Homo sapiens: one gene and its partner. The protein of the gene in region 2 purifies or fractionates together with the protein of the main gene of each other region. This does not show direct contact. Each region holds a gene or a part of one and is shown on either strand. Other genes may lie near its edges.

The links.
Region 1: the proteins of PPTC7 (region 2) and AKAP10 purify together in Homo sapiens (co-immunoprecipitation; one large-scale study listed by IntAct). This does not show direct contact.

The regions. Positions count from the first base shown.
Region 1 is NC_000017.11:19,908,325-19,911,977, reverse strand, and holds part of AKAP10 (A-kinase anchor protein 10, mitochondrial isoform 1 precursor), read left to right. Parts: intron 1-1,999; coding exon 2,000-2,052; intron 2,053-2,701; coding exon 2,702-2,797; intron 2,798-3,653. UniProt on the Homo sapiens protein: Differentially targeted protein that binds to type I and II regulatory subunits of protein kinase A and anchors them to the mitochondria or the plasma membrane.
Region 2 is NC_000012.12:110,548,802-110,552,454, forward strand, and holds part of PPTC7 (protein phosphatase PTC7 homolog), read right to left. Parts: intron 3,168-3,653; coding exon 2,988-3,167; intron 1-2,987. UniProt on the Homo sapiens protein: Protein phosphatase that plays an essential role in mitochondrial metabolism and biogenesis. Positively regulates biosynthesis of the ubiquinone, coenzyme Q. Dephosphorylates the ubiquinone biosynthesis protein COQ7 which is likely to lead to its activation.

The sequences.
Region 1 (3,653 bases), on a different chromosome or scaffold from region 2:
GCTTCGATACATTGGTGGGAGACAAAACTGTACTTAAATTGATAAATCCCTTACATGTCATTTTAAGGAGCTTAGACTGACTCCCATCATGTAGACATCAGAGATTTCTTTTTTTTTTTTTTTTTTTTTTTTTTTTTTTTTTGTGACAGAGTTTTGCTCTTGTTGCCGAGGCTGGAGTGCAATGGCGTGATCTCGGCTCACCACAACCTCCACCTCCCAGGTTCAAGCAATTCTCCTGCCTCAGCCTCCCGAGTAGCTGGGATTACAGCCATGCACCACCACGCCTGGCTAATTTTGTATTTTTAGTAGAGACGGGGTTTCTCCATGTTGTGGCTGGTCTCGAACTCCTGACCTCAGGTGATCCTCCCGCCTCAGCCACCCAAAGTTCTGAAATTACAGGCGTGAGCCACCGCGCCCAGCCCAGAGATTTCTAAACAGAGTTCTAACCAGATGCTTTTCCCTGTCAGTAGAATGAGAATGAATTGGAGGTGGGAGAGACTGGCATGAGGGACACCAGTCAGCCAGTGGAATTAGCTGGTAATGTTGATAGGAGAAGAAAAAGATTCAAAGTTAGGTAGTGGTAGCAAGAATTAGAGGGAAGGTCGGATTTATGATATGTCCAAGGTTGAATTCTAAGGTGAAATTTGGTGGCAGATTTCATGTGTAAATTGGGAAGGTAGATTGAGTTTTTTTAACATGGGTTTTCTAACATGTCAATAGAGTGACTCTGCAGGGGGGCCTGACGAGAGAACAGTGCATGGGGTGATTCAACAGCCAGTTGAGCCTTCATGCAGAGCATTTAACACTGTGACTCTGTAGACTCTGGTTGGCAGTAAAATTTCATTAAACCAATATTTAAACCCTTAGGTAATAATAAAAATTGAGGGAAAAGGATCCAGGTTTTGTATTTTTTATGAATTCAGTTATTGAATTAAACAGGACCTTGCCTCAAGAAATAATCTACCAACAATTAACTTGTTTTAAAGCAAAGTTAGGAAGTGAGCATGTTCAAATTATTAAATAAAAAAGTAAGCTGTGTATTTCATTCATAGAAATAGAGGCTGGCCTACTTCGGATGATTCTCAGCATGTGATTACAGATGTGGGCTTATACATCCTAGGGAGTTAAGGCGTACTCTGGCTTGGATAGAGTAGAGCTCTTTGAAACTCTTCTCTCACCCAGCTAGTTTATATAGACTAGAGAACTAGAATGTAGCAGCATACTCTGTCTTAGAAGCCCTTTTATATAGGAGCTGGTCTGGAAGGTTTGAAAACATAACAAATGTGTTGGTGTCTCCCAATGTATTGCTAGATTCTTACCCAAGAGCATTATCCTGGTTAGGGTTTGGTTTGGTTTTGTTTTGTTTTTTAATGTTTGCCACAAACTAACACTAGATGTTAGTTCTTTCATCAAGTGAGGAGAGTAGAAGAAAAGTCCAGAACTCTGAAACACCTTTTCAAAAGTTTTTCAAGCCATGATGTTTGCAAGTTAAATGCTCTGTTATGTAAGCAATATAATCAGTTTTTATTAATGTAACATTCCTTAGTGTTTTGGGGTATCACACAAAAAAGAATATCCATATCTGGAAGCAACAGCTTTTAAATAAGAGCATTGTGGTGGTGGTGGTGATAGTGGTTTTTTTTTTTTTTTTTGAGTTGGAGTCTCGCTCTGTTGCCCAGGTTGGAGTGCAGTGGCACGATCTCAGCTCGCTTCAACCTCTGCTCCCAGGTTCAAGCAATTCTTCTGCCTCAGCCTCCTGAGTAGCTGGGATTATAGGCACCTGCTACCATGCCTGGCTGATTTTTATTATTTTAGTAGAGACAGGTTTCACCATGTTGGCCAGGCTGGTCTTGAACTCTTAACCTCAGGTGAATCACCCACCTCGGCCTCCCAAAGTGCTGGAATTACAGGCATGAACCACCATGGCCAGCCAAATAAGAGCATTTTTAATGTAAAATTATGCATGAAATGTACATTCAATTTTGTCTTTGTTTACTAGGATCCATGTTCTCACAAGCTATGAAGAAATGGGTGCAAGGAAATACTGATGAGGTAAATCCTACCTTTAGGATAAAAAGATTTCTGTTTATAAGTGCCACCCTCATGTAAGTGAGGTTTAAAATTTTCCTTTTCTTTAGGTCCCATGTTTAAGCAGCATGGCACATTTATGTTCTCTTACCCAGAATGTACCAAGAAAGGGTGGTCCCTTCTTAACATCTAACAATTGCCTGGTAGTAGCAGTGAAGGTATCTTCAGTCAGAGGCTAGGACCACTGAAGGATATACATGCATTCAAGTTTCCATCAGCCAGCAGGCATCAGTAATCAGTGTGTAGATCAAAAGCTCAAATGTTTCCTTCCCCACTGGCAGTTTTACTTCAAGTAGTGGAGGCTTGCTTTTTTAATAGTTAATTAAGTACATTGAGAGATGGGAGGTGAAAAAAGGAAAATGTTTTATTTTGACCATCTAATATGAAAGTAGTTCGGTGTTAGGTATCCAGTAGTTGACACTGGAAGACAGGGAATGACATGTTAATATTCATAGCCAGAGGGTGGCCCAGGTTTTTTCGTACATGGGAATGAAATTCTTATCCAAATAAGTAGAAATTATGTGCGTAAGCCATTTGTTAAGAGCACTGAGTATGTGCATCTCGATCCATCTAATGAATAACCATTATCACCAGTTTAAATTATTTTCTTTAGGCCCAGGAAGAGCTAGCTTGGAAGATTGCTAAAATGATAGTCAGTGACATTATGCAGCAGGCTCAGTATGATCAACCGTTAGAGAAATCTACAAAGGTAAGGATGACTTCGTTTTGTGTAAACTAAAAAGTATTATTTTCCAGGTGTAAAAATAAAAAAGAACATAAGGGGTTTCTTTGCCTTTGAAGGATTAACTGCTGTGGGGATTACCTTCTTATCATAAGCAACTAGAAAATTGACAAACTAAATGAAACAACTGTTTGCATATATTGGACAATGGGCAATACAGGGAAACCATGGAAACCAAACAGAGCCCAGTAGTCTTGCTGAACGAAAGAGTTAAATATCAAAGTTCAGGCCAGGTGCAGTGGCTCACGCCTGTAATCCCAGCACTTTGGGAGGCCAAGGCGGGTGAATCACTTGAGGTCAGGAGTTCAAGACCAGCCTGGCCAACATGGTGAAACCCTGTCTTAGCCGGGTGTGGTGGCAGGCACCTGTAATCCCAACTATTTGGGAGGCTGAGGCAGGAGAATCGCTTGAACCAGGGAGGCGGAGGTTGCAGTGAGCCGAGATCACACCACTGCACTCCAGCCTGGGCGACGAGCGAAACCCCATTTCAAAAAAAAAATCAAAGTTCAGAGAGCTCAATTTGAGTAGAAGTTGTAGGATAAGGTAGCAGAAAAGAGGAAGCTGCCCAGAAAGAAAGCCGTAGAGATATTTAGAGAGATTCCCATGGATCCTTGGCCTAGGAGTGATCTGTATATGTGTGGGGTGAAAACGCATGTGTCCAGGTAGAGAACCCCCCAGAAATTAGTAGGCTGAATGATTGCTGGAACATAGGGCTAAGAAAAGTTCATGGCCAGAAGGATCTGGCCAGAGTAGAGAGACTTAGTAATACACAAGGCATTGGGTAGTGTCTTCACAGAGGTTATGCCTTACTACTGAAGATAAA
Region 2 (3,653 bases):
ATCCAAAGCAGCACCAACAAGTATAAGCCCAGCCTTACAGAACCATCTGGGCTTGGAGTGTACCCTCCTCTTTTGCCTCCTCAAATTCCTGATGTGTGCACGTGGCTCAGGCCCCAGCAGCCTAATATTGGGAGAAGAGCTAATCATTCTCACGTGTTTGGAGAGGCACAAGCAGGCAAAGATGAGTAAGAAAAGCGGTGCTGAGAACCACAGTGTAGGATGTTTAGACAAATGACCCATATAGACAGGAACCCAGGCGAGTCCCTCATGCTCAAATGGAAATATTTTTATCACCCAGCTCCTTATTTTGTAAACTACTACTAAGCCTTTTGTATGGCAGAAAAAGGGATAACTTTATTAGGACCAACCCCTCAGGTTCTTAAGATACTCTGGCTGCTTAGGACCTTATCAATCCATTTAAAGGTTTCTGAGGAAATCATATATGCCAACAATTAGTCTGTAATGCCCTTAGACCCAAACGCAGCTAGAAAGTCAAAGAAATAAGTGGTTACAGCTACCAGCTTGCCTTTTATATTGGAATTGCTTTGTAGGCTTTTTAGCAGTTGCTGGATTAAAAAAAAAAAATTACCTAACTAACTTATCTGGTAAAGTTGTCATGATTTACAATTATATCTAGCTGAAGTTCAGTAAAACTCAGCAGCTTGTCTTTGTCAAAATATGCTTGAGTTTCATTACAAACAGCCTAGAGATGTGTAGATTTTGTGAAAAAAAGGTGTGTCAAACATGGTGATGAAAGATTATTTCAATGTGCCTTTTAGGAGAAAAAAGTAATCACAATATTCAATGTAAGAAAATATTATTTTCTCTAATATTAAATTTAAATGTATTTTATTAATATCTCCCAGTTACATGAGGGTGAACAGAAAGGGAAAGTAGGAATAGGAAAAAGAAAAAGGCACAGCAAAAACCAAAGCTTCTAAAGTGTAAAATCAGGATGGTTACGTGTTTTGTAACCAGTTATCTCAAGTCAAAGTAAATGATCGGGGGTCAGAGGGTCAGCAGAGCCACTCTTGAGAACATGCAGGAGGCAGTCCCCTGGAATCTGTGTCTAGGGGCTCTCTCTCCATTTAACATGTGAAGCAAGGAGATCACAGGTTAAGTGGCTTGCCCAAAGTCACACAGCAAGTTGACAGAGAGGTGCTAGAAATAGCATCTAGAATGTTTCACTATGCCAGACAAGCTCCAGATTGCATGTCCAAAACAGGGAATTAAGACAAAGCAGTATATATTGAAACTGCAAGACAAGATCCCTTTTCAGTTTGAAGGAAAACAAGTTAGTTAATCACAGCACAAAGACAGAAGACAGCAGACTGATAAAAAGAACTCCTTACAAAGGGCTTAAACTGAAAGCAAATTCTATAACAACTGTGGTGATCTCCATTAACGCTAAACAGGGGCTGATTTTTTTTTTTTTTTTTTTTTTTTGGAGATGGAGTCTTGCTCTGTCGCCCACGCTGGAGTGCAGTGGCGCGATTTTGGCTCACTGCAAGCTCCGCCTCCCAGGTTCACACCATTCTCTTGACTCAGCCTCCTAAGTAGCTGGGACCACAGGTGCCCACCACCACACCCGGCTAATTTTTTGTATTTTTAGTAGAGACAGGGTTTCACTGTGTTAGCCACGATGGTCTCAATCTCCTGACCTCATGATCCGCCCACCTCGGCCTCCCAAAGTGTTGGGATTACAGGCGTGAGCTGCCGCCCCTGGCCGAACAGGGGCTGATTTTAAATGTCAATGGTGACTGGGAAGGAGGCCTTCTAGTAACTAGAAAGATGCTGGCTATGAGCAGAAACGTAATAATACCCTCTCTGAGAGACTGCTTAGAAGGCTGGGTAAGTTCCCAGGAAATCATGTAACAAACAAACGTAGAGGCCTGGCCAAAGGATGCTCCATTAGCATACCACATAAACAAACCCTAAATACTTGGTTTTAAGTTTTCTAATACAAGATTATCGGGGATCTAATTTGTGCCAAGTTATTTCACCGACTAATCACCTGTTAGCAGTGTGGGGTGACCAAACACAACTTGAACTCATCACAGGTAATGAACTGAATTTTGCAGGCCAGACCATTTCTTTTCTTTCCTCTTGCTCTTCTTTCTTCTTTTACCAAATTTTAGAATCCCTCAACAATACAGTTTTAACTTTTTATGTTTCTAAACTTGAAATATATGGAATCAGACTGTCAGGTGGAATTCTGCAATGTTCTCTCTTCCCTTCACAACATGTTCCTGAGTAGAACATGCAGCTTTAAGTCGTTTCTTTTCACAATGCATTTTTCTACAACAGATAGACTTTTAGGTTGTCCCCAGTTCTCTGCTATTGGCAACATTTTGAGAACATTCTCATACCTATCTTTTGGTTCACGTATTGTGCAAGAGTTTCTCTAGTCTAGGGTAAACACCTAGAAGTGCAACTGCTGTGGCATACTATATGTTCATATTTAATACCAAATTGTTTTCCGAAGTGGCTGTACCTATCCACATTCCCTCCAAGCAGTACTACGTATTCTGGTTAGCCTATAGTTTCTCTTTTATTTTTTGGAGATGGAGTTTCACTCTTGTGGCCCAGGCTGGGGTGCAATGGCGCCATCTCGGCACACCGCAACATCCACCTCCCGGGGTTCAAGTGATTCTCCTGCCTCAGCCTCCCAAGTAGCTGGGATTACAGGCATGCGCCACCATGCCTGGCTAATTTTTGTATTTTTAGTAGAGATGGGGTTTCTCTATGTTGGTCAGGCTGGTCTCGAATTCCCGACCTCAGGTGATCTGCCCACCTCAGCCTCCCAAAGTGCTGGGATTACAGGCGTGAGCCACTGCGCCCAGCGGTTAGCCTATAGTTTCTCTATCACACTCTGCTTAGTAGGAAGAGCCTCAGAAAAAAGCTGGTCCGATAAATGATTTTCTTGGTTTTGTTTTTAACTATCTAGGGGGCTTCTTTAGAGGAAAACACATAAGATACCCACTTACCGAGCAAAGGGACTTTATTTTGCAGCAACTCACAGTAGCTTGTGGTGAGAATTCCAATGGGATTACTAGGTACGAACCGTCCTTCTTTTACTAAACGTTCACACGTCCGCATTAAAGTCCCTGAGAATTGAGATGGATCAACTCCATAGTCTCTCCAGCCTCCTACACCATCTGCAACCCCTGAAGAAAAAACAAAAATTACAGTAAAAGAACAATCTTACCAACTTCTCAGGAATTCTTACCTCTGTTTTCTCCTAACAGTTAATTTCACTACATGCTACTACATACATTCACTCCAAAATTCAGAATAAAAAGCACTCACGTTTAATGTATTCTACACTAACACTCCTAAGCCACATTCACTACTTAGAATTTGGCCTTTCATATATTGATGAATAAACTTTTGAGCTACCACAGGGTGGCATTGCCTACCAGCCAAGAGTTCAATTTCAGCAGGATTAGCATCTGTGTATAGACATATTTGTGTCATTAATACTTTGTCTTTTATAAGAATGAAAATTGATTTTTAAGCAAAGTGCTGATGCTAGTGACGATACAATTCAGTCAGAGCTGGAGATCACAAAGAACATCAAAAGCGGCAACCTTTTAACTCCAAACATTGGTCAATCGCTGGGAAATAAAGAACAAAACTGAGAACATATCCCA